7 linked regions of the Homo sapiens genome follow. The protein of the gene in region 5 purifies or fractionates together with the protein of the main gene of each other region. This does not show direct contact. Each region holds a gene or a part of one and is shown on either strand. Other genes may lie near its edges. The genes, in order: SNX19, NPEPPS, ANO10, TRPM7, SLC35F3, P4HTM and ENPP1.

Evidence for each region.
Region 1: the proteins of SLC35F3 (region 5) and SNX19 purify together in Homo sapiens (affinity purification with mass spectrometry; one large-scale study listed by BioGRID and IntAct). This does not show direct contact.
Region 2: the proteins of SLC35F3 (region 5) and NPEPPS purify together in Homo sapiens (affinity purification with mass spectrometry; one large-scale study listed by BioGRID and IntAct). This does not show direct contact.
Region 3: the proteins of SLC35F3 (region 5) and ANO10 purify together in Homo sapiens (affinity purification with mass spectrometry; one large-scale study listed by BioGRID and IntAct). This does not show direct contact.
Region 4: the proteins of SLC35F3 (region 5) and TRPM7 purify together in Homo sapiens (affinity purification with mass spectrometry; one large-scale study listed by BioGRID and IntAct). This does not show direct contact.
Region 6: the proteins of SLC35F3 (region 5) and P4HTM purify together in Homo sapiens (affinity purification with mass spectrometry; one large-scale study listed by BioGRID and IntAct). This does not show direct contact.
Region 7: the proteins of SLC35F3 (region 5) and ENPP1 purify together in Homo sapiens (affinity purification with mass spectrometry; one large-scale study listed by BioGRID and IntAct). This does not show direct contact.

The regions. Positions count from the first base shown.
Region 1 is NC_000011.10:130,868,615-130,871,479, forward strand, and holds part of SNX19 (sorting nexin-19), read right to left. Parts: 3' UTR 1-2,865. UniProt on the Homo sapiens protein: Plays a role in intracellular vesicle trafficking and exocytosis. May play a role in maintaining insulin-containing dense core vesicles in pancreatic beta-cells and in preventing their degradation. May play a role in insulin secretion.
Region 2 is NC_000017.11:47,583,108-47,586,607, reverse strand, and holds part of NPEPPS (puromycin-sensitive aminopeptidase), read right to left. Parts: intron 1,109-3,500; coding exon 908-1,108; intron 461-907; coding exon 364-460; intron 244-363; coding exon 210-243; intron 1-209. UniProt on the Homo sapiens protein: Aminopeptidase with broad substrate specificity for several peptides. Involved in proteolytic events essential for cell growth and viability. May act as regulator of neuropeptide activity.
Region 3 is NC_000003.12:43,367,012-43,370,511, forward strand, and holds part of ANO10 (anoctamin-10), read right to left. Parts: intron 1-3,500. UniProt on the Homo sapiens protein: Does not exhibit calcium-activated chloride channel (CaCC) activity. Can inhibit the activity of ANO1.
Region 4 is NC_000015.10:50,610,298-50,613,797, forward strand, and holds part of TRPM7 (transient receptor potential cation channel subfamily M member 7), read right to left. Parts: coding exon 3,410-3,500; intron 2,533-3,409; coding exon 2,252-2,532; intron 1,025-2,251; coding exon 796-1,024; intron 1-795. UniProt on the Homo sapiens protein: Bifunctional protein that combines an ion channel with an intrinsic kinase domain, enabling it to modulate cellular functions either by conducting ions through the pore or by phosphorylating downstream proteins via its kinase domain.
Region 5 is NC_000001.11:233,907,676-233,911,175, reverse strand, and holds part of SLC35F3 (solute carrier family 35 member F3), read right to left. Parts: intron 1-3,500. UniProt on the Homo sapiens protein: Mediates thiamine transport.
Region 6 is NC_000003.12:48,996,741-49,000,240, reverse strand, and holds part of P4HTM (transmembrane prolyl 4-hydroxylase), read right to left. Parts: exon of another isoform or gene 1,569-3,500; intron 1,326-1,568; exon of another isoform or gene 458-1,325; intron 1-457. UniProt on the Homo sapiens protein: Catalyzes the post-translational formation of 4-hydroxyproline in hypoxia-inducible factor (HIF) alpha proteins. Hydroxylates HIF1A at 'Pro-402' and 'Pro-564'.
Region 7 is NC_000006.12:131,874,020-131,877,519, reverse strand, and holds part of ENPP1 (ectonucleotide pyrophosphatase/phosphodiesterase family member 1), read right to left. Parts: intron 3,253-3,500; coding exon 3,183-3,252; intron 1,745-3,182; coding exon 1,657-1,744; intron 529-1,656; coding exon 359-528; intron 1-358. UniProt on the Homo sapiens protein: Nucleotide pyrophosphatase that generates diphosphate (PPi) and functions in bone mineralization and soft tissue calcification by regulating pyrophosphate levels.

The sequences.
Region 1 (2,865 bases), on a different chromosome or scaffold from region 5:
TGAAACTTGCTCAGGACACCCTTTTTCTCAGTTTGAGGTTAAGTACTCCTCCGCCCCCAACCCCCCGACCACACCCCATGCCCAGTATACTCTTAGAGCAGAGAGGAGGTCTGGAGGAGACAAGGGCCTAAGGCTTCACCCTTGCTCACTTGGAACTAGGCATTCTTGCTGTCATCTGGTTTAGTCAAGGGGGTTGTGAGGCGTGTGGGCTCCATTGTGAGTGTAGGAAAGATGGAAAGAAAATTGCCAGATGGGGATGAGGATTCCAAGCCTATCAGGAGGAAAGAAATATGTTACTCACTGCCACAAGAAGGTTGCCAACGTCATTTATGGATCAGCAACTGCTTGTAGGCAAAGTCTGTTACATGCCTGTCACTGGGCTATGCACCCGAGGATGGAGGCACTAGCTGAGGCTTACGAGTTAGAATAGATAAGGTGAAAATTGTCTGCCATGGTATATGCTGGAAAAACTCTGGGAAACAAGACAATCTGCCTCCAAGGGATTAACAGCCCAGTAGGGAAGACAGACCAACAGGCAAACCCTAAGGGCGGGTTAGAAAGAAGCTTGACTAGTGTAGGTGCTTCAAAATGAAGACAGCTGTGTATGTCTCAGTCAAGCTGTGCGGGTCCAGCCAATTTAAGATAAACTCTGTTTAATTACATTTTACGTTTTAAAAGGAAACTTCTTCATTACATTGCCTATCAGTGCAGTTAAGTAAAAAGGCACATGGAACTATATGAACAGATGCCATTAACAGGTTTTTGCTTTTACATGTCATCTTTCCCATTTGAGCATTAATTACTCAGTATTTTCTCATCAGTTTTCAGAAAGTTTTTCGAGGATAAACTTGTAGAGGGATTTGGGGAGAGGAAGCTTTATTGGGATCTCTAGGGGCTATTTTATATTTTCCAATGTCTGAACTGTTTTTACAACAGATTTTCCACAGAAAGCTCAACAAGTCACTAAACTTTCTGAGTCTCAGAATCTGGGACTTAAAATCAGGGGAAGAGATGTGAATGGCTAAACTTTCTAGTTGTGTGAATAGTTTGCAACATATAAAGAATTGGTCAAAATGTTTATTCTTAGGGTCGGTAGTTATTCTGACTTCACAGAAGGGAATATCTGGCCAACTTTCCTCACAGAATATCAATTGTGGAATCAAGTATAGGGAATATCATGCATTTAAGGTTCACATATAGCCTTAAGTTGATGTCCATATTGATTTAACTATCAAAAAGGCAATTAGATTAGTGGGGTAGCCAAGTCACCCACAAAGACTGATGAGCTGATATAGAAAAAAAAAAAGGAATAAAGAAAAAGCAATTGTGAAGTTCCATAAGAATAGGAGAAATGACAGATATGAAGAGTTTTTTGAAGAAAGTTTCTTCTCTGTTGCTATTTAGTTTTAACAAAGGAGTTTCAGAAATGAACATAGAGAAGCAATTGGGTGAGGCTCCCTGCTAGATGAAGAAAACTTCTATCACTTGGGAAAAATCCACAGAAATCCTAATCCTATTAAAAACTTAGGTCATTCCACCCCAACAGTACTCTTTCTTCCATGTCCAAAACCATACGTGGAGCTTGCTTGTGTTTCAATACAAGCTCTTGCCTCAGTCCTCTCCAGATTGCTAAAAGGAGGTGTATAACCCTGCTCTTCAGCAGAAAGACCGCAGGTATTCCCGCCGCATCCACATATGCACACTTACTTCCCTTGGATGTGTGGCAACGAGCTCTGCTGCTGCAAGTGTTATATGCCATCCGCAAACCCACATGGGTGCAGGGTGCACACCTGAACAGGGGGTAGCCTCTGATGAAACATTTGAGTAATGGATTTCTTTACCTCACCTAAACAGATCCACTGAAAAGGAAACTTTTTGGGTTCCCACCCACACGCAAGATGTACAAAGCTGTCTGGGGCAGGTCTGGTACAGACTAGCCAGTGCCCTCCACTGGAATAAGTGGTTAATCTCAAAGAGGTTTACGGTGGTTTCTCCACATATCTTCACCCTTCAAGCCTTTCCATAAAAGTCACCAGCACCCTGTCTCTGGGATGTGGAAGGTTGGGAGAAAGGAATCAACAAAATGAAAGTAACAGTATCAAGATCCAGACTTATTCACAAATTTTGCCTCTTAAATAAACATAATCTTTAATTAAGTAAACTTTAATATTTATTTTGTACCTATCATGCACTAGGTATATACATATAGTTGGGGGGGGGGCATAAGGACATAATAGGACTAAAAAAGATAAAAGATATGTTCGTTGCCCTTGAAGAATTATAGTCTCTTACTGAGGACTTCATATACATGCACATTGACTAGAGAGGCAGTGTAAATAACTGAAAAGAAAGTGGGAAGAGTTTTGGCTGGTGCAATCAGACAGTGCTTCTTGAAAATGGAACTTGAATTGGTCCTTATGGGCAGAGGTAGCCTACTTGCCCAGCTGGAGAAGAGAAGGTAATCTACCACGTGGAAGGAAGGACATGAACAAAAAAATGAAAGCAGGAAGGAACATGCTGGTTTGGGCAGAATAAAAAATCCCTAGATTTTTTTGGAAGTTTCTCGTCTAACCTCCTGCCTAAACCATCTATAATACATTCTGTCCCCAAGAAAATGCTCTACTGCCAACTAAGCCCATGTGATTCTCCTAGAGATGCATGAGTCCTTAATGAAAGCTGCCCTCACTATTCTTGAAAAAGCCACTTGCATTTATAGATAACAGAGGGTAAACTTTAAACACAACTGCATAAAGTGGCAAGGAACTGGCCTGCCGTCAGCTCACTGAATTTGGATTCCATGCAAGCAGGATGTGTAAAGGAGGTAAACTCCAAAAGTGTTTTTCCTCCCTTAATAAGGTCTATTCT
Region 2 (3,500 bases), on a different chromosome or scaffold from region 5:
TGCTCACTTTAAAATCTTACACCCTCAGACAGTAGCACCAAAGGGAGGGGTGTCCATCTGCATTCTTGAAATGTGCACGGAAGTGGGGGAAGGTAGAAAAATTTACACCATATCGTAAAGCAGAAGCTACTCAACTGTGATTAGGAGGGAAGCCCTTTTGAAATCAGTGATTTGAAAAGATAAGGCAGGGTAACACATCATTAACATACCTATAAGTAACAAGGCCCCAGTTCTCCATGGCACCTTCACAAAATAAATATAAACATTTATTGATATATATATATATATATATACTCTTGCATCAAAAGTCACAAAATTTTAAAAAGTTATTACAATTCAGCAATAAAATGAAATTTACTTTACCAGCTGCAAAGTCTGCAATAGCAATGAGATCAATTTTAGGTAGAGGATAAGGAACATTGAAGTAGTCCTTATAAAAAGGCAAGGTTTTAGCAGCAACCTATAAAAGTATAAACAAAATAACCATCTAATAAATATGTTATTATAATTCATATTGAAACCCACAAAGGAATCCTGTTGCAAGCCAATGTATCTTAAATTACTAGAAATGAATCCCGAGGAGCCCTACCCTCCGAAGACTGCCTTAGCTCCAAACTTTGAATACAATGGCCAAACTTTAATCCATTTATAACTTGATATGAAAAATATAACTACATATTTTCCAACCCATTCCCTAGAGAAATTCCACTCTTATATTCTCTTAATTATTATTTTGTAAAATAATGAAACACCAAGGTTGGCATTTCCTAAATTCTACTAAAAATAAACCAAGTAGCACAACTTTCAGATTAAATTATAAATAACTGTACTAATAATTGACCAGAAATGTAAATTCCCCAACCTGGAGTTATGGACTGTTGGAACAATCCTCTTCAAGTACATTTACCTCTAACGCAAATTTTCCTTGCTCTGCTTTGCCAACAGGAGTGTAAACACGGACACACACACCATCTTTTGACCTTGTTTCTACAAAGTCATATTCACCCACAACAAATGCCACCAGATATGTAGACATAACAGGTGTGCGGGCAAACTTCACTTCCACTAAATTTTCATCATCAGGGTATGGTTTCCGGTCAATTACATTCTTTAAGAAATAAAAAAAAGAAAAATTTAAATAGGTTTACATTAATACCATAGAGCAAATACCAGCCAAAAACTGTAGGCTTTATTGCATCTCTTTACCCCTTTCTATTCTAGCATGGCTTATTTCTCTACCCCAATTCATCCAGTGCTTTTATGCTGTCTTTAAGAAGGAAAGTGGTCTGATAAAACACTCATACTAAGAAGCTGGAGGCTGAAGTGTTAAAACTACCAAGGACCTGTGAAAGAAAAGAGGAATGGACTTTTCTCAAATACTTATTATAAGCCAGGCATTGGGATGATTTAAGTTAAGGGCTTCATACTTTTCAACTGACATAAGTTTAGGAGAAAATGACTATTAATAAAAATAAAATAGGGGCTAGGCGCGGTGGCTCACGCCTGTAATACCAGCACTTTGGGAGGCTTAGGCAGGCGAATCACAAGGTCAGGAGATCAAGACCATCCTGGCTAACATGGTGAAACCCCATCTCTACTAAAAATACAAAACATTAGCCAGGCATGGTGGGGGGTGCCTGTAATCCCAGCTACTTGGGAGGCTGAGGCAGGAGAATGTCGTGAACTAGGGAGGCGGAGCTTGCAGTGAGCTGGGATCACACCACTGCACTCCAGCCTGGGCGACACAGCGAGACTCCTTCTCAAAAATAAATAAATATAATATAATTGTAGAATCTCCCATTTCAAAGGATACAAACTTCTAGATCGAGGGCATTCTCTACCAAAGTTGGCTCTAAGCTTATTTGTGAAGAAATTTCAACTTTACCTTTGGAGTCCCTAATTTCCTTTGGTGTTCTCCCTCTTTTTCCTATTCAGGCTCTGTTTCCTCAAGCTCTCTCTATTCTTCCTTCCAAGGAAGACTTATTCAAGAACACACTGATAAATTCACTCATACTAAAGTGTGAATGAATATTTCCGTTTAATATATTAGCCTCCTCTTCTAAGAATATGTGAGAAGAGAATGACATTCTATTTATGGGATGCTCTCCCCCAATAAATACATAAAAGAGTTATTTTCAGGTGCAGCAGGTTTTTCCAAGTTCCCCACACAAGACAGTCCTAGACAACACACTTCAAGTGGGGAATGCTTACCCTGTTCATGAATGAGATCAATAACACTGGTGAAGAGAATACATTCCAAGAATACAAACAGCCAGAGACCTAAATATACTTCATTACGCAGCTACATCTTTTGAATTTTTTTAACTTTTTAAAAACATAAGAGACAGGGTCTTGCTCTGTTGCAACCTTTTTTTTTTTTTTCCCCCGAGATGGAGTCTTGCTCTGTCACCCAGGCTGGAGTGGAGTGGCGCGATCTCAACTCACTGCAGCCTCCACCTCCCAGGTTCAAGCAATTCTCCTGCCTCAGCCTCCCAAGTAGCTGGGGTTACAGGTGCCTGCCACCATATCTGGCTAATTTTTGTATTTTTAGTAGAGATGGGGTTTCACCATGTTGGCCAGGCTGGTCTCGAACTCCTGGCCTCAAATGATCCACCTGCCTCAGCCTCCTGAAGTGCTGGGATTACAGGCATGAGCCACCATGCCTGGCCTATTTTTTTTTTTTTAAGAGATGGGGTCTTGTTCTGTCACCCAGGCTGGAATACAGTGGCACAATCACGGCTCCCTGTAGCCTCAAACTCCTAAGTTCGAGAGATCCTCCCACATTAGCCTCCCAAGTAGTTAGGATTACAGACACGTGCCACCATACCTGGCTAACTTTTAAGTTTTAAATCTTTTGTAGAAATGAGGTCTCACTATGTTGCCCAGACTGGTGTCAAACTCCTGGCCTCAAGCAATCCTCCTGCCTTAGCCTCCCAAAGCACTGAGATTACAAGCAAGAGTCACTGTACCTGGCTTTCTTATGACATTTAATAAGTCAAGACCTTTTTCTTTTTTTTTTTTCTGAGATAGGGTCTGGCTCTGTCACCCAGGCTGGAGTGCAGTGGTGTGATCTCAGCTCACTACAAACTCCGCTTCCTGGGTTCAAGTGATCCTCCCACCTCGGCCTCCCAACTAGCTGGGACTACAGGTGTGTGCAACCACACTCAGATAATTTTTGTATTTTTAGTAAGGACAGGTTTTCACCATGTTGGCCAGGCTGGTCTTCAACTCCTGACCTCAAGCGATCTGCCTACCTTGACTTCCCAAAGTGCTGGGATGACAGGTGTAAGCCACCATATCCAGCCCAAGACCTTTTGCTTTTAGTTACTATAAATCTATTAAACTTGTCAATTTACCTCTCTAAATTAAAAGAAGTAGATAATCTTATAAATGTATTTAACGAGGAATTTGACAAAGAGAAAATCCTCCAAAAATAAAGCTATCAAGAAAAAGAGGTCTTGGCTGGGCATGGTGGCTCATGCCTGTAATCCCAGCACTTT
Region 3 (3,500 bases), on a different chromosome or scaffold from region 5:
AGCCTAAGTAGTGGCCGAGGCCTCTGCTCTCTGTGGAAGCCTGGCCAGCGGCTTTGACCCCAGGGAAGTGGTGACTCTGATGCTGCCTGCAGCTTCCTGCAAGTCCCTGGGTCTGACTCTGAGGAGATGGGAGACAGTTGGTGTGGTGGAAATGCAATGTCGCACTGTGTGAGCCCAGACCAGCAGGGATTTTAAGGACACTGAAATGAGAAGCAGCTGGCGTCTCCTCCTCCCTGGATGGCCAGGATGAGGGGAATAGGCGGACAGGGCCTGAGAGAGGACGGGGCACAGGCTTGGGACCAAGTGCTTGCTTTGCCCCTGTGCTTTGAGCGACCCTGGCAGTTTGACCTCACTGAGCCGGAGTTTCCAAATCTGCAGTGAGAGCAATAGTGCCTATTTTGCAGGGTGGCTGCAAGTATTGTTGTCCATGAAGTCCCTGGCACAGAACAGATGCCCCAAATCATCAGATGTTTCTCACCAGCCTTTTGTCCCTAGTACAGCCACAGGACTTACACTCACCCCTCCGCCCCCATCCTCACTGGGAACAACCCATGAAGTCTCTGTGAGGGTGACGTCAAGATAGAGGTGCCCTCCTCGAGGGCAGGATGGGAGACTTCCAGGGAGGTGTCAGAAGGGAGAGCCTGTTCCCACAAGTCAGGCAGCGGCGTAGGGGACAGTTCTGCTGCTCCTACCTTCCCCTACCCCAGCCCTGAAGCTCCCAGTCACTTCGGTTTTATGGCTAGAAAACACCACTACAGCTCTGCCCTATTCGTTGAATAAATGAATAACTATAATACTGTGGAAGTTGGCTTCAAACAGATTTTTGATAACAGTGATTCACCTATGGAAAAACAAAACTCTGAGCGCAAACATGGCTGGTACCCCCAGTACCTGGCTACTCATCTTGAGAGCCCCAAGTGCCACCCAGGGCTGGAAGCAATACCATGCTCCCTGTGGCTTTCAGTGGGAGAAGCCCCTTTCACAGACTGTCAATCAAAAGTCCTTGTCTGCTGCTTTAATTTACCCTCCTAAGGATCCTTTAGATCTGCAGCACCTCAGGAAGGTGCTCTCAACTCCTGACCATTCTCATGTTTTCTGAGCCTGGCCTGTCTCCCACAGGGCGGCTCATGATGGCTCCTGGAAGCTGAGCCCTCTGCATTTGGCTTGGGGAGGGGACTGGCTGGCCCTTTCTTATCCAGGTCTAAGCAGGGCTTAGGAGATGGCTTTTGATGAGAAAGGGGGCTACGGAGAGTCAAGGTGACCAGTTTACCTGCGGTGGGGGTAAGAGGGTTCTTTCTGCAGGGGCCACAGCATTTCAGTAGGCCTGGAGTAGGGGGTAGACACACAAGTTAACACTGGCCCAGGGACATGCCCTGTCCAAATGACCCACCACTGCAAGATTTCTATAACCTTCATCCTGCCAGGGGGATAGAGATGGTTTAATAGTTCACAAACCTAGAAAGGCTGAACTGCTAGGCACTGTAAAAGTCTCCCCAGAGTTTTTTGCATCTGCTACCTCTTCCATTACTAACATTTCAGGTCTTCCCACAAGCCCATGCTGTTAACTACAGATATAAAATATCACCATAAATAAAAACTGTAATATTTCAGCCCAGGTTCACTGCAGACTCTTCTAGCTGTTATCATTTAATACTTGTAAGACTTTTAAAATGTCTTTTTTTTTTTTTTTCAAGAGCCAGGGTCTCACTTTGTTGCCCAGGCTGGAGTGCAGAGGCGTGATCACACTGCAACCTCGAACTCCTGGGCTCAAGGGATCCTCCTGCCTCAATTTCCCAAGTAGCTGGGACTACGGGCATGAGCCACTGTGTGCGGTAAATTTAACTAAACTAAAACAATAATGAAGACAGAACATTCCCCAGCTTGTCACGGAATCTTGCAGCCACATTTCCCTGGCATTCCACATGGGGAAGAAAATCAAAATGGGAGCATCTGAGGCTCCTTTCAAGGCATGGTGGCTGGAAGCCCCGTGAGGTCAGGCACAGAAGCATCCAGCAGCTCTCTGGGAGGGGCCCCCTGCTCCACAGTAGCCAGGGTGGATGGGCCTTCTCCTCCAAATGACCAAACCCAATGTGACTTTTGTCTCACTTCCTGGGGCTGCTTCTGGGGTGCCCCCCACTTGTCCTTATAACTGATGTGCCCATGAGGGGCTTCTTCAGGGCCACAGCCCCTTCTCTCAGGCCCAGGGTTGGGGGCTTCACCCAAGTTCAGGGAAGGAACTCGGAACCCACTTGGCTGGGTTCCTCCCACCTGCAGTGCCTGCCTTGCTCAGGGCAGCACCTAAGAGCCTGAGGATGTCCACGAGGTCACAAGGTCATCTGCACTGAACTGCACTACTGGTGGCAAAGGTAGAAAGAATGGCCAGGGACCCTACAGTCCTCCCTTGCCTCAGGCCAGGCAGGAGCCATTTGCACATTTCTGCTCTTTCCTTCACCTGTCCTGGAGCAAGGCTTCTTTTAAAGCCATGAATGACCAAGCCTCACTGGAGTGTTCTGTGATCCCCAAGTTGGGCCACGGCCATGGGATGTCTCAAGGCCAGCTTGGCAGCCAGGGGAACAGGAGGGGACAGGAAGGCTGTGCTCCCAGGGCCTCCACAGGGCAGTGGCAGACCAGGTGGTTTCCTTCCAAGGGCACTCTCCCTCCCAGGGCCATGGTATGGAGGGGGGCTCAGCTCGACTCCCTGGGTTGCCTGTGCCCACAATCCCCAGCTGGAAGACCCTAAGCCAATGGCAGAACCAGAAATTAAAACCTGCAGCTAAAGTCCAAAGAAAAACCCAAGCGATTTGGAGGAAATGAGCTGCAACAGCCCGCTTTCCTGAGACAAGCTAAGTTGTCATGAAATCAGTGGCTGACATTCACACCTTTTCTGTGTAAATGGGGCAGGCCTCTACCTCCCTTGGCTGCAAATGGAGTCAGAGCCACAGATACTCATTACCGGCTGGCTGGCCCTAAGATGGCTTCTCTTAGGTAAACCAATTGCTATCTACCACTCATGAGTCTGCAACCCTCAGTATGGGGGTCATGCGACGTACAACAGGAATATCCCATTTGTTTTCCAGGAGGGCTGTCCTCCTGGTGAAGAGGAGGCTGAGCCCTAACCACAGCCCTGGCCCAAGAGCACTTCCCACACCCTCCCCGATGGGGAAGTGGTGAGCACTGGCAGAAGTGATGTCAGGATCACAGAATTTATGATTAGGAAGGAACCCTGAAGAACAGTCAGTCTCATGGCCACTTAAGAATCCTGAGACCTGGTTAAATGCAGGCCCTGCAGTGGACCCCAGACTCTCTGAATTTTTAACGAGCCTTCGAGTTTTTCCACTGGCCACCCCAGGCTTGCAAGTCTCTGATTTGTTGTCTGTCACCTTTCACAAATAAGCGAGCTGGGGCCAGGAGGGGTGAAACAGATTTCTCCCAGGCCATACTGCAGGCTCTGGCTGCGTGGGCTGGGACGGTGCCTAGGCACCAGGCTGCCTCTGGCAGCT
Region 4 (3,500 bases), on a different chromosome or scaffold from region 5:
CAAGCCTTATAAAGGTGCTATGTCCTTAATTTTATCCTAAATCTCTTTGCAAGTGTTCCATGTCATAATGTGATTACTCAGCTTGTGCCTCTATAAACAAAAAGGTTTATTTCTAAAATTTTACTTATTACTTGCAAAATCCCAAAGCATGAAGAAATTGTAATTGTGTAACAGGTTTTCTGTTGGTTATTCAGTGGCCTATGGTTAAACTATTTGCCTGATTTCTGACTCCTACATTTCTGCACCTTATTTTAAAAGATATAAGATAACAAAAAGCAAAGTTCAAAGCAGTATCTATCACCATGACAAAACCAAAGGTACATGCCATTTTACCCAAATTTTTAATCATAAAAACAGGCCACATGGATATACTTATCTATAATGGGTATATCAATATACTCATCCAATATACTTTAAGTAACTTAAAAGTAACAGATTATTAAATTAGTAGATAGGTCTTGAATTTCAGAATTTGGGAATAATCTTTTCATAAAGTAGTAACTTTTTTCAAGGCTGCTAGGGGCCATAATCTCCAATATTTGCCATTTGTTCCCCTTCTAGCTCAAAGAGAGGCCATAATCATTATAGACACCTGAAAAGGATTCAAAAGTTAAGTAGAGGAAAAAAGAAGCCCATTATACCACTTGGGATGAAATGCCAATCATCCATCTTGCTCCCTCTTTACCCCCCACCATTACACTCACACATCAAGGCATTTTACTACACATTTAGACTAATTCTTCTGTTCTTTTTATCTAATCACATGCTTTATATCAAATTATTTCTAAAGTATACCTTGTACCAGGAATTTTTCCTCATATTCAGCCTTCCCATCCACATATCAGATAACAACATTTGTGTACAGGTGTGAGCTACAAAAGGTCTAAGTCTTGAAGAAACTGCTAACTTAAGGCAGGTTGAATTACTCCAGTTCTTCAGTTCATAAGTGAGCAATTTCATAGCCATGGTTTCATCTTGTCTGAAGGACTGTTCTAATAATTCAACGGCCAACTGACCAAAATCACTATAAAAAGATAAAAGCCAAAATATACTCAGATTAACAAACTGCAATTTTAAACCACTATTCTTATATACATTAATACTTCCTACTTTTTAATATTCTCACACACACTTACAGAATTATGAGGCATTAAAACCATAACTCTGTTTTCAGACATCTACATCTATGTGGAAATCACAAAATATTAAAATATGTCGCATTATGTACAAGATTGAGAAGGTGAATCCAGAGCACATTCTCCCGGTCCTAGAAATCAAACTATAATCTCAAAGGGAATCAAAACTCACAATGCTACAATGCTCTGTTCAAAAAAGTTTATGTAGTATTTCAAACACAGAAAACAGTTGGTACCTGGTAGAGAGGAAAAACAATGTGACTAGGGACTAACCTAATTATGAAAAACATCTGAATCTTGAAGTCCCACTAAGTAACCATAGGATCCCTGTTAAAGAGTTATTTTCAGTAACAATTATCACTGCCCTCTAAATACCCCACTTGGGGAGCCGGAGGTCTTAGTATATATTAGAAAACTTCTACAAACTACTTTTCCAGTTTAATATTCCAACACTGCCCCTCTAAGTAAATTGTAAACTTTTATGAACTATGTCGTTACTCTGTGTATGTAGTTCTAGCTTCTGAAGTGCCTTCCCAGTTGAATTCAGTCTATTTTCTTATAACACAGCTCCAACTTCACTTCCACCCTTTCCTTACCAATTCAAATGGAACTTTCTAATCCAATTGCTACTATTTGCAAAAATTAAAATGAATTCTGGCATTTCTTCTTTGTTTCGAGACAGGGTCTATTGCTGTCACCTAGGCTGGAGTGCAATGGCATGATCACAGCTCACTGCAGCCTTAACCTCCCAGGCTCAAGTGATCCTTCCACCTCAGCCTCCTGAGTAGCTGGGACCACAGACAAGTACCACCACACCCAGTTAATTTTTAAATTTCATGTAGAGACGGGGTCTGCCTATGTTGCCCAGGCTGCATTTCTTCTTTCTTGCTGAGATATTTAATTCTTGAGTTGCAAATATAATAACCTCTTTTTCATAGAGGCAGAAAGTTTCTTTTAATTAAAAAAATATATACTTATATAATTTTCTGTCAATTGTACCAATAAGATTATACATATAAATACATCACCATTAAGTACGTGGCACTGTAACAGCCACTCAAACAATACCTACTTTGAATTTTTAAAATGTTTTCAAATGATAAAATACCACTTACTTGGAATACTGTTTTAGTTCTTCTGAAGTATCATCTACCAGGTCACTCTGCTTTGCTTCATATGCCATTGAACGATAGATCTTACAGGCAACTAATGCTTTAGCCATTGATTCTTCACCATGTTGCCATAAAAAACGGGCCATGACCTGCCTCTTCATAAGGCAAGCCCAAATTAAAAGTTCATTAAGTGGATAAGGAAAGCGCTTGGTTTCTGGATCATCAATGTCTACAATTTCATCTTTGGTTCTTTTCTTCTTTCCTTCTTCCATAACTGTATCAATCTTCCAGGGAAAATAAAGTTATAAAGCTCATTATAATAAGGCCATATGAAATTTATGTCAGTGAAAATTTTAGTAAAATATCTTTACATTATTCAGCTCCATAAAACTGCACAATAGCATAAATTTTATAAACTTGATTTTTATTATAGCTCATAATTCATTTTATGAAAATGCTGTTTCAACAAAAATGCCTTTGCAATAAACATTTTCCAAAATTTAAGGGCCTAAATATTTCAACTAATATTCTAATAGAACATAATTTTAATAAAGGGTTAGATAACATTTTTGTTATACATGTTCTTAATCAAGTAAAACTGGAATGAAAGGAGTCAGGTAAACATTTATTAAAACATTTTAATTTGGTTATTATCATACCTAAATATGAAAATGTACGCTGGGCGCGGTGGCCCACGCCTGTAATCCCAGCAGTTTGGGAGGCTGAGGAGGATGGATCACGAGGTCAAGAGATCGAGACCATACTGGCCAACATGGTGAAACCCAGTCTCTACTAAAAATACAAAAAATTAGCCAGTGTAGTGCTGGGTGCCTGTAGTCTCAGCTACTCGGGAGGCTGAGGCAGGAGAATCACTCGAACCTGGGAGGTGGAGGTTGCAGTGAGCCAAAATTGTGCCACTACACTCCAGCCTGGTGACAGAGCAAGACTCCTGTCTCAAAAAAAAAAAAAAAAAAAAAAAGGAACAGAATCATTAACTTATAATTAATATCTCTGTGTGTGAGAAAATGACAATTCTAGGACATATCCAAAAACGAAAGGTAATTCTTACTAAATCAATTAGTTTTTTTTGTTTAATAATACTAAGTAATTTAGAAAGAAGAAAATAAAAACCCAGAAAGAATAATATTTAAATAAATTTACCTTTGGTCGGTAGGGCTGTGCTGTCTTAATGAAATGGTTATGCCTCATTTTTTCCTTTTTATCTGCCCTATTGCCAAAAGATTCATGACTC
Region 5 (3,500 bases):
CAGGGTGAACTAACAGGGACGCTAGGAAGACAGCCTTTCCATGAGCCCTTCCCCCTCACCTCATACAAACCCTTTACAACTTTTAAACCTGGAGAATCCTGAAACATGCAATTTCCTTGTCACCAGGTGTGTTATTCAGTGCCCTACATTTTTTCAGCTTGAACTAGAAAACCTCCACCCAGATAAGCTGGGATTTGTTCATTAACCTGCATGTTCCTGTCCCAGGTTCACGTTGCCAATAGCGGGCTGGAGTGGGCTAGAGACAGTTGGTCTTTTAAGACTGACCCTCTCTCCATTCTACAAATGACTTAAAACTCATTCCATTCACATTCTGGAAAAAAGCATTTAAATCTCAACATACCAGAACCTGTAGTGAATAATAGTTGACGTTCAACAAAGTGTATAAACCTACTCAAATGATAATTGCACTTCATGTTAAGCAATAAGCATGACCCCCTTCAAAAAAGCTATTCGTAAAATGTTTTGGGGACTTTTTACCCAGAAAAGGATTTAAGAGTTCAATATTTGAAAACATCCTTTAGGGAAACCTTTCGGAAAGGGAAACATCCTGCCCACCCTTAGAATGTCTGTGTTCTAATGCAGGTTTGTGTTGACCTGTATTTCTAGACGAAGGCACACCTGGACAGTGAGCCACCTCTTCCAGCACTTCTCTCTCTATTCTGACATACACTGACTGCTGAAAAAAGGTTTTTTAAATGAATAAATGAAAATAAAGGAGTATTCGCAGATGTTCCTTCATCCTGCAGCAGAGCCTCTATCTGGAAACTCCAAGATATGTTCCTTCAATCATTCCTGTATGGAAATGCCACCAGCTGTCCCACCCTATCAGATGCCTGGGGCTGGCTGTCTACTATACAGATTTTTCCTGGTCTTTGATTCTCCTCATCCCTTCTCTAGCCATCTCCTCCCTAATTGGTGTCCATCCCAGAGAAATGAGAAAGGAAAAGGAAGCAGAAGATATTCTAATCAGTCATTTCTCTTCTACTGGGGCAAAAGGTAGGAAAGAAAAGGAAGTTATTAAAAGAAACTGTTCAGAGTCTCCTGAATTCTAAAGCACTTCCTACAGGGTGTCAATTTATGATGATTGGTTGTGGAATCATGCCAGCTGCAGAAGGAACAGGCTCTTTCAAATCTTCAGAAGACACTTGCACTGCCAGTGGTGATGATTACTCGATCTGGCCATCCTGAAAACCTAAAAAGTGGTCCAGGAAGAAAGGTGAGGAAGGAGAGGGTCAGGAATTTGTAAGGTAGGCCTGCTTGTTTAGCATTACTGGGCAACAGAAGAGAGTTCTATTGCAGCATAAATTTGGGGGTTACCCTAAATGAGTGGGTCTCAACTAAAGGCTGCCCCCCATGGGATACTGAGTTGCTACAACTTAGGGGGCAGGGTGGTAAGCTACTGACATCTAATAGGCAGAGGTCAGAGATACTGCTAAACATCCTACAATGTACATGACAGCTCCCTACAACAAATACTTATACAGCACAAAGGGTTAATAGTGCTGAGATCAAGAAACCCTGGGCCAAACCAAAGCTTATCACCAAGAATTCTGGTCCAGTCTGTGGTTCAGGAAGCACTTGTGATGGAAGAACTAGGAAAGAGTAGAGCAATTCCACATAACAGGAAGTCAGCATAAAGAGGTAAATGATACAAATCACTACAGAGGCATATTCAAAGCTCCCTGTCCCAGAGGTCAGTATTTCGTGCAGCAGCCATCCATTCATTCAACAAATATTTATTGAGTCCCTCCTGTGGCCCAGGTGCTTTCTGGGCCCTGGATCCACTCAACAGATGATAATTTGAAGAATTCCCAGGAATACTGCCAAGTGGTTTGGTTCAAAAACATGGAATGTGGAGCTTGGAGGACTTTTGCCACTGAGAAGAGGAACTGGGCCCTTCTTACTTCCTTGTTTACAGTTTAATTCTCAGTTGAATGTTTCACAAAAGCCATCCCTTTCAGACCCAGGAGCCTTTGGGATTTTTAAAAAAGAATCCTAGGCTGGGTGCGGTGGCTCATGCCTGTAATCCCATTACTTTGGGAGGCCGAGGAGGGCAGATCACAAGATCAGGAGTTCGAGACCAGCCTGACCAACATGGTGAAACCCTGTCTCTACTAAAAATACAAAAATTAGCCGGGCATGGTGGTGGGTGCCTGTAGTCCCAGCTACTCAGGAGGAAGCTGAGGTAGGAGAATCGCTTGAACCTGTGAGGCAGAGGTTGCAGTGAGCTGAGATTGTGCCACTGCACTCTAGCCTGGGCGACAGAGCAAAACTCCTTCTAAAAAAAAATACTATTATTTGGGGAAGCTGGGCAAATTTTAAGCCAGGCACGGTGGCTCACGACTGTAATTCCAGCACTTTGGGAGGCCGAGGTGGGCAGATCATGAGATCAGGAGTTCGAGACCAGCCTGGCCAACATGGTGAAACCCCATCTTTACTAAAAATACAAAAAATTAGCCAGGCATGGTGGTGCTAGTCCCAGCTACTCAGAAGGCTGAAGCAGGAGAATCGCTTGAACCCGGGAGGTGGAAGTTGCAGTGAGCCGAGATTGCACCATTGCACTCCAGCCTGGGTGACAGAATAAGACTCTGTCAAAAAAAAAAAAAAAAAAAAAAAAAGAATCCTTTACAAAATTCTCTTGTCTAGAGCGAAACTTGCGAATCCAAATGACTGAGTTGAGAATACTGAGCAAAGGTAATTTCTGTACTGTTCACAATTACCTCATTTATCTTAACAACCCAAACAAAATCTAAAAATGAAGAGGATACAAATGAATATTGGGTCATTCAAATGGTTTCTTCTGCTACAAGGGCAAATGACTTACATCCAGAAACTTTCACTGGCAACTCCTTCAGTTAGGACACAGATAAATCACTTTGAAAGATGACTGAAAGGTGACATAATAGCTTGGAGCTTCCATAACTCACTCTGGAGATCATGAGAATTTTTTTTTTTTGTCTTTGTTTTGTTTTTTTTGTAACCATCATCTCTCCCCATTTATAGAGTACAATTACCAACCAACAAATAAAGCAACTAGGTGATACCTACAGGTAATAGATAAGCCTCTTTATTATTATCAATTGAGTAGAAATGGCAAACAGCAAAAGTTCTGCCTTAAAACCTCTTCTGGGCCGGGCGTGGTGGCTCACGCCTATAATCCCAGCACTTTGGGAGGCCAAGGTGGGTGGATAACCTGAGGTCAGGAGTTCAAGACCAGCCTGGCCAACATAGTGAAACCTCATCTCTACTAAAAATACAAAAATTAGCAGGATGTGGTGGCGCACGCCTGTAATCCCAGCTACGCAGGAGGCTGAGGCAGGAGAATCACTTGAACTCAGGAGGTGGAGGTTGCAGTGAGCCAAGATCATGCCACTGCACTCTACACTCCAGCCTGGGTGACAGAGTGAGACTCCCTCTCAAAAAACAAAGAAAAAAAAAACAAAAAGACAACCTCTTTTGCTGCATTAATACATTAATAA
Region 6 (3,500 bases), on a different chromosome or scaffold from region 5:
AGAAAATACTTAGGTAGCACAGACTCTGCCCAAGGCACTGTCCTAAGCACTTCATACACATCAACTCCTTAATCCTTATACTTACCCTAGGAGGCCAGGCCCCATTAATTCAACCTTCCTATCTAAGAGGAAACCCAAGCACAGAGAAATCAGTGCCTTGCCACTGGCCACCCAGCCTGCTGTGTTCCAGAAACCATGCTCATGACCAGATTCAGCTACTAGGAGCAGGTGACCCTGATGTGATAACACTGAGGATAGGACAAAGGCCCCCACTCTTGGCCTGCATGATCCCGTGACCCCAGCAAACCCAGAAAGGGTGTGATCCAAGGGGAGACAGCCCTGTGGAACAATGGATTAGATCAAATTGCAAATCAACAGAGTCACCTCTTGATTGCTTAACACACAAAATTTAAAAAGAAAGAAAAAGGAAGCCAGAAAAAGAAAAGAAAACACAGGCCCAGGTTTCTTCAGTTTATTAGGTGCCAGTAATCTGCAAGCCCAGTGGAGGTGCCTCCAGCCTCTACAGTCCCCTGCTGTGTGCTAATCAAAAACAAACAGCCCAGTCAGCATGTTGGGGCCTCACCAGGTGGGTCCGGGCACCTCGGAGCTGTGCAAACCCCTGCAGGATCTCCTCTGTTGGCTCCCTGGGTGCAGGAACAGCCCTATAAAACCCTCAACCTCAGTTCATTAAGGCCAAGGCACAGAAGGCAGTGATGGAGCAGGGGCTGTGGCTGCTGGTGACACTGGTGATGCTGTGGGATGACAGCAGGGTCAGGGGCTCCCTGGGGCTGCATGAGGTGCATGCCCATTCCCCAAGCCATGGCCCTATGCCACGACATTGGCTACACAGATGCGTCTGCCCAACTTGCTGGACCACATCACAGCAGCTGAGGCCATCCAGCAGTTGGTCAGCTGGCTGCTCCTGCTTGCCTGGGAGTGCCACCCCGATGCCCGCCTCTTCCTCTGCTATTTACCCCTGTATGCCTTGACAGGTAGGACAGGGGCTTCCAGGTGCAGGGCCCTGGAGGGCTCCCTCAGGGCCCTGCTCTGGTGGCTCAGGTCTTCAGTAATCCTTGCTGAGCACCTGAGCACCTATCAGGGCTGGGCGCTGACAGGCACAGAGAGGAAAATGGATCGTTTTGTTAGAGTGTTCCAGACAGAGGGAACCAGGTGCCCTTAGGCAGGAGACCATCAATGGTGGTCAAGGGCTCTTGAATGTCAAGATAGGGCAGGTGGACAAGTCGCTTCAGGCTGGGGGTTGGGGGCAGGCGGGCTGGAACCTCCTCTCCAATGAGGCGTGGAAGCTATGTCTGTCCAAAGAGACCCTGGCAAGAGATGGAGCAGAGGCCCTTCTGGTGGCCTTTTCTCCCAGAGAGTCCAGAGATCCCAAGGCTGTTTCCTCTTCCCCAGCCTAACCTATCCTGTGAACAATGGTTTCTCCCAAGAGCCTCTGGGTGGCCATGTCAGCAGAACTCAGGATCAAGCCCTTGAACTGTTTGCCAACCCCAGCCCTGGCTGCGGTGCCCCGAAGGCCTTTCAGGACAAGAGGGAGGGCCCTGTTTCCTCACTTTAAGATGGAGAGTAAAGGCCCAAGGTGCAGGCCACCTCTTGCAGACAATGGATGTCCACAGAGCCGGAGGGAGAGGTGCACTGGAAAGCTGGCAAGGCACCTGAGTGGGAGGGCGGGAGTGAAGAGGCAGAGCTGAGGGCTGAGATGTGGGGCAAGTGGGAAAGCCAGGCTACGGGGCTGTTGCTAGGCGACCAGTGTCGTTGCCCAGCAACCAGAGAGTTCCAGGCCACGAGACAGGGGTAGGAACATGGAGAGGTTCCAGCTGATCTGGGTGCTCAGCCTGTGGCGGTGCAGCCCCCGACCCTTTCCCCCAAAGGGTCATCTACCCCTCCTACAGCCTGTGCGAGGCCATGCAGGCCAGCTGCGAGCCCATCATGGCCTGCTACAGCTACCCCTGGCCAGCCATCCTGCATTGTGGACGCTTCCCCTTGGGCCATGATCTCTGTATCACTGCTGTGGCCAACAACGGCTCCCGCCTGGACCGCCCATGTGAGTCTGCACATGGCTGGTCTCCACCTTGCTCGGCCCCACCCCTTTCAAATCATTCAAATCATACAGGGATCAGGTAAACTGTACTCAATGTCACCTACAGCAGGCATCCGTCTCAAAAAGGGTAAAAAAGGGGGAAAAGTGGAGGGATCAGCCCCCTCCACCCCCTCCTCACTCCACCCCCAACCACACTGGCCAGTGCCTCGCCTTGCCCCTCTTCCCAGCGCTGCATGCCAGCTGCAGGGACTGCGAGTTGCAGGATGCAGGCTCCTCCAAGGAGGTTCTGGACACTCTCTGCACCAGTGACTTTGATGAGTCCTGGGCCTGTAGCTTTACACACCCCTTCCAAGTGCCTCCATTGCAGCTCCTGGCTCGGGGCTGAGGCAGTGTAAGAGGGAATATCCAAATGCTATGCCTGGTTGGAACAAAAAGAAAAAATTCCTTTACAAGCATAGGACATTGCTAAAACAACAAAATGAAACCAAAAATTCTGCTAAGGAAGGTGGCAGACTGATTCTAAGGGCAGAGCATCAGACAAAAGGGTTTAGTCTACTAGGTGGAGGGGACTGATGGACTAAACACTCTTGGGGGTTTAGGGAGGACTCCTAGAGGCCCATCTCCTCACCGGCCCCTCTGTTCCCACTCAGCAGTGAAGGTCAGGTTCTCCAGGACCAACAGTACTTCCTCTGGCCCCTGGGACTGCAACCTGTACTCCAGACTAGAGGTGCTGAAGACAGGACCACTGCCCCCTGCAGAGCTGGAGCCCACCCTGCAACGCTGGCTGCAGCTGGATGTCACATGTGTGTACAATCTTTTTCGAGGAAGGCACACAGGGACCTATGTGTTGAGTGGGAAGATGGAGGCCTGCTGGCTGTTGGTAACCACGGCCTATGCCTGGAGCCAGGGCCACCAAAATTTTCGACTGGCTGTGCGCCATTGGCACCCTCACCAGTGCCAAGAATAGGGGCTAACCCCGCCAGGGAGAGCCTGGGACTTTGTAGCCATGGCCTCTGCAGTGGCCATGCAAATTGTGTGTGCTTCCATGGAAACACATACAACCCTCTTTCTGCCGCCCCCCAAGGAGATTTACAAACCAGAATCCAGAGAGGCACAAGTCTCAAACAGGGTGGAAGTACACTTTCCATGGACACAGCTAGGAACTGCTTTTTGAGCAGGTAGTCCTCTGTCTGGCCAAGAGGACAGACAGGCTCCCAGGCAGCTGTCTATGCTGGGTAGGGAAAACCACCTTCTGTCCTTCCCAGGCCTAGGATGACAGCCTGGCTAGTGGCCTGCTACTACTGCCCACATGCCTCGGAACCCCAAGCTGAGTCTCCGGGCAGGCACATAGCCTTGGGCTATGCTCACCTTGGACAAGATGCTGTTTGTCGAACCCCGGACAGACTTAATTATACCTGATTAACCTTTACCGGTCCGTAGCTTT
Region 7 (3,500 bases), on a different chromosome or scaffold from region 5:
ATGTGCTCATCACCTCACTGCTAGAGTTAACAGCACAGATTCCCTAATTCAGGATGCTCAAGAACTGAACTAGACTTCTCCACACCCGTACCCAAGTCAACTAACTAGACTTCACCACACCTGCACCCAAGTCAAGTCACAGCTCCAAGGAATTAAAAATAGAGTGGAAAATGCAAAAACTAGAAAGAGAAAAGATATATCACAAAAGATCTACATGCGCCCCCTAGAATTAAAACATATGTTTACCTACCCCCACTCCTAAATTCTAATTTGATTATTAAGTATTTTTACAGCACATGCTATGCAGAGGGTGCTATCAAACCATACATACTGGACCAAACTTCTTGACGATACTTACCGAAGGGTTACATGAGCAGCCAAGGTTATCTCTGGGGTTTCTTGTGAAGGGGCACTGTACCAGGGGGTGCACTTCTTTGGGATGCTTTGGCGTATAAACAGGATTCTTTAGAAGGTGGTTAAGACTTCCATGAGTTCCGTTATTAGGAGCCGGTGTCAAATTCAGTAAATCTGCATAATTTCAAGATGGTAGAGTTACTTAGATGTTTCAAATCAAACAAATAGTAGACTTGTGCCATGATCTTTACTTTTTTAAAACCAAATACATGAGTCATTTACTCTTTAACTAAAATAAAAGTATAAAACTCTCTTGGGTTTTAGAGTATTTAAGACTAGGTTATTTTTAATAGAAATACTGATATGTATGCTGTATTTCACTACAAAATTTCTGATATTTAAAGCATACAATAACTACAGTCACAACCTGTTGAATGCATATTTTTGCCAATCATGGTACTAACATATTTTCTTATTTATTCCCCAAAACAATTTTATAAGTTATCATCAATATTTGGTAGATGAGTAATCAAAGTGTTTTACCCAAGTCTCAAAGTTACTAACTAAATGATCTAGAATTCAAAACCAGCTTTGTCTGAGTCTAAGACTCATGCTCTTAAATGTAATAACAGCAAATACTTATGTAGTAAGCACTTACTATATGCCAGCTGCTGTTTTAAGTATTTTAGGATACATTAACTCATTTAAACTATATAGACTCCCACTAAAAGAATTATACTTAAGACATATTTAAGGTTTTGCAGATGCCTAGGACCATTATCAGAATAAGAAACTAATATTTAAAACACACAATGCTTCAACACAAAAGGACTACTTCAGAAGGTACAAAGTAAACCAAGAATCTCCCTAATGGGTCCTCCTTCATTTCTGCAACCTTGACACTGACCTATATTCAACCATTATGGCTACCAGAAGTTCCAAAAGTTTTGTCCACCTTTCACTGCCCTCAATCTCCTTTTTCTGGCTTCTATCACTGCTCTGAGTCAAGAATCAAATCACTAAGCCGAGGGCCTAGCAAAGTGCTGGGCAGTGGGGGTGTGCAGACCACCCTGCTGTGAGTGGTGTACTTTAACCAGCAAGCAGCCTAGTGGAACAAACAGATAAGTAATAAGATGACATGTTCCCCACATTTCTTCAGTGAGTCTGAGAGTCAGGAAGAAGGTAAAAATCTGTCTTGCCTCACCATCATCTCCACAAAGTTGCCTACAATGTGACCTGCTTTTGATAATCCTATTTCAGGTCTATTTTCAGAAGGGAAAAAAGGCACCTGTTCACACTTACCACACATTAAGTTATAGACTTCAATGTTTTCAAAGGTGTCAGCCTCAATGCCATGCTTGAATCCAGGTCCATAGCCAACAAAGAGGGCCTAGATGGCCAGAAAAGGAAGTTTATCAGTGCATTTCAGCTGTCTACAAGTTGGTCCCAAAAATTCTGTTATCCACATTGTACATATACAAACTGGTTATGATAAGATAAGAGGAAAACTACCACGCTCAGTGGACTTTGTGGGAAATATAGTTTTAACCCTATCACACACATAATCTAAGGACATCTAGGATAGGTCTCTTAGTTTTACTACAATTCTTGGTTTGACAATCAGAACAGAATGAATGATAACATTTTTTTTTCATCTATGACATGCAATATAAACCTCATCCTGCCCACCTTACACAGTGATGCAGGGATCAAATTAAATAATTATTGTAAGTTTATTTTGAAAATGTTAAAGTGCTGGGTAAATGTAAGATATTATCCTTCTCAGAACATAAGTCTGATACTTTCTTATCTATTATAGCACTGGTTTTCTTCAACTGTAAAGCAATACTCTCAACAGAGCACAAAAATTTGAAAAATAATTATTAGAAATATAATAGGAGATATGTCATATGTTTATGAAACATGAATATAAAATTTTATTAATTTTTTAACTTTATGAATTTAGGGGTATGAGTACAGTTATGTTACATGGATATATTGCACAGTGGTGAAGTCTGAGCTTTTAGTGTTACCCATCACCAGAATAGTGTACATTGTACCCAATAAGTGGTATTTCATCCCTCACACTCCTCCTGCCCTCCCACCTTTGGGGAGTCTCCAATGTTTATTATTCCACTCTGTATGTCCGTGTTTGCCTACTGTTTAGCTACCACTTACAAGTGAACATGTGATTTTTAGCTTTTTGTTTGAGTTATTTCACTAAGGATAATGGCCCCCAATTCCATCCATGTTGCTGCAAAGGACATGATTTCATTCCTTTTTATGGCTGAGTAGTATTTCATGGTATGTGTGTGTGTGTGTGTATATATATATATATCTCACACATTTTTAATCCAATCATCCATTTATAAATATTTAGGTTGATTCCATGACTACTTCTGTGAATAGTGCTGCGATAAACATACGAGTGCAGGTGTCTTTGATAAACTGATTATTTTTTTTCCTTTGGGTAGATACCCAGTAGTGGGATTGCTAGATTAGGGGTAGTTTCATTTTTATTTCTTTGAGAAATCTCTATACAGTGATCCATAGAGGTTGTACTAATTTACATTCCCTTTGACAGTGTATAAGTGTTCCCTTTTCTCCACATCCTTACTACATCTGTTGTTTTTTGACTTTTTAGTAATAGCCAATGAATATAAAACTTTAACAAAATTCTTTAATGTTCAAAGAAAAATAGCTTTATGAAAGTATGTTCCATTAATTCTCATTCAAGACATATAATCACAGTATGTTTTCAAGTCTAAAACTTTGCATATCATTTTTTCTTTAGATTTAATCCAATTAAGTATAATAGGTTTACTCACTTGCATATTTGAAAATACATTGTCAGAGCCATGAAATCCACTTCCACAATATTTCCTTTCTGAGGGATTCCTAATGTTGACATATATGAATTAAAAATGTAAAGTCCTTTCATAAAACATAATTGATAATCATAACATTATTTTCATTGATTAAAAAGTATGTAACTATTTTGTTAAACCAACACAACGGTAAATAAAACCACCTGGCTTTGAAAAGCATTAAGAAGTCACCTCTATCTTTTATTTCATGGACAAATTAACTATAAGCAATATAGTAGACAGAAGAAAAACCACTAGCATCAAGACAGAAGTGGTTTT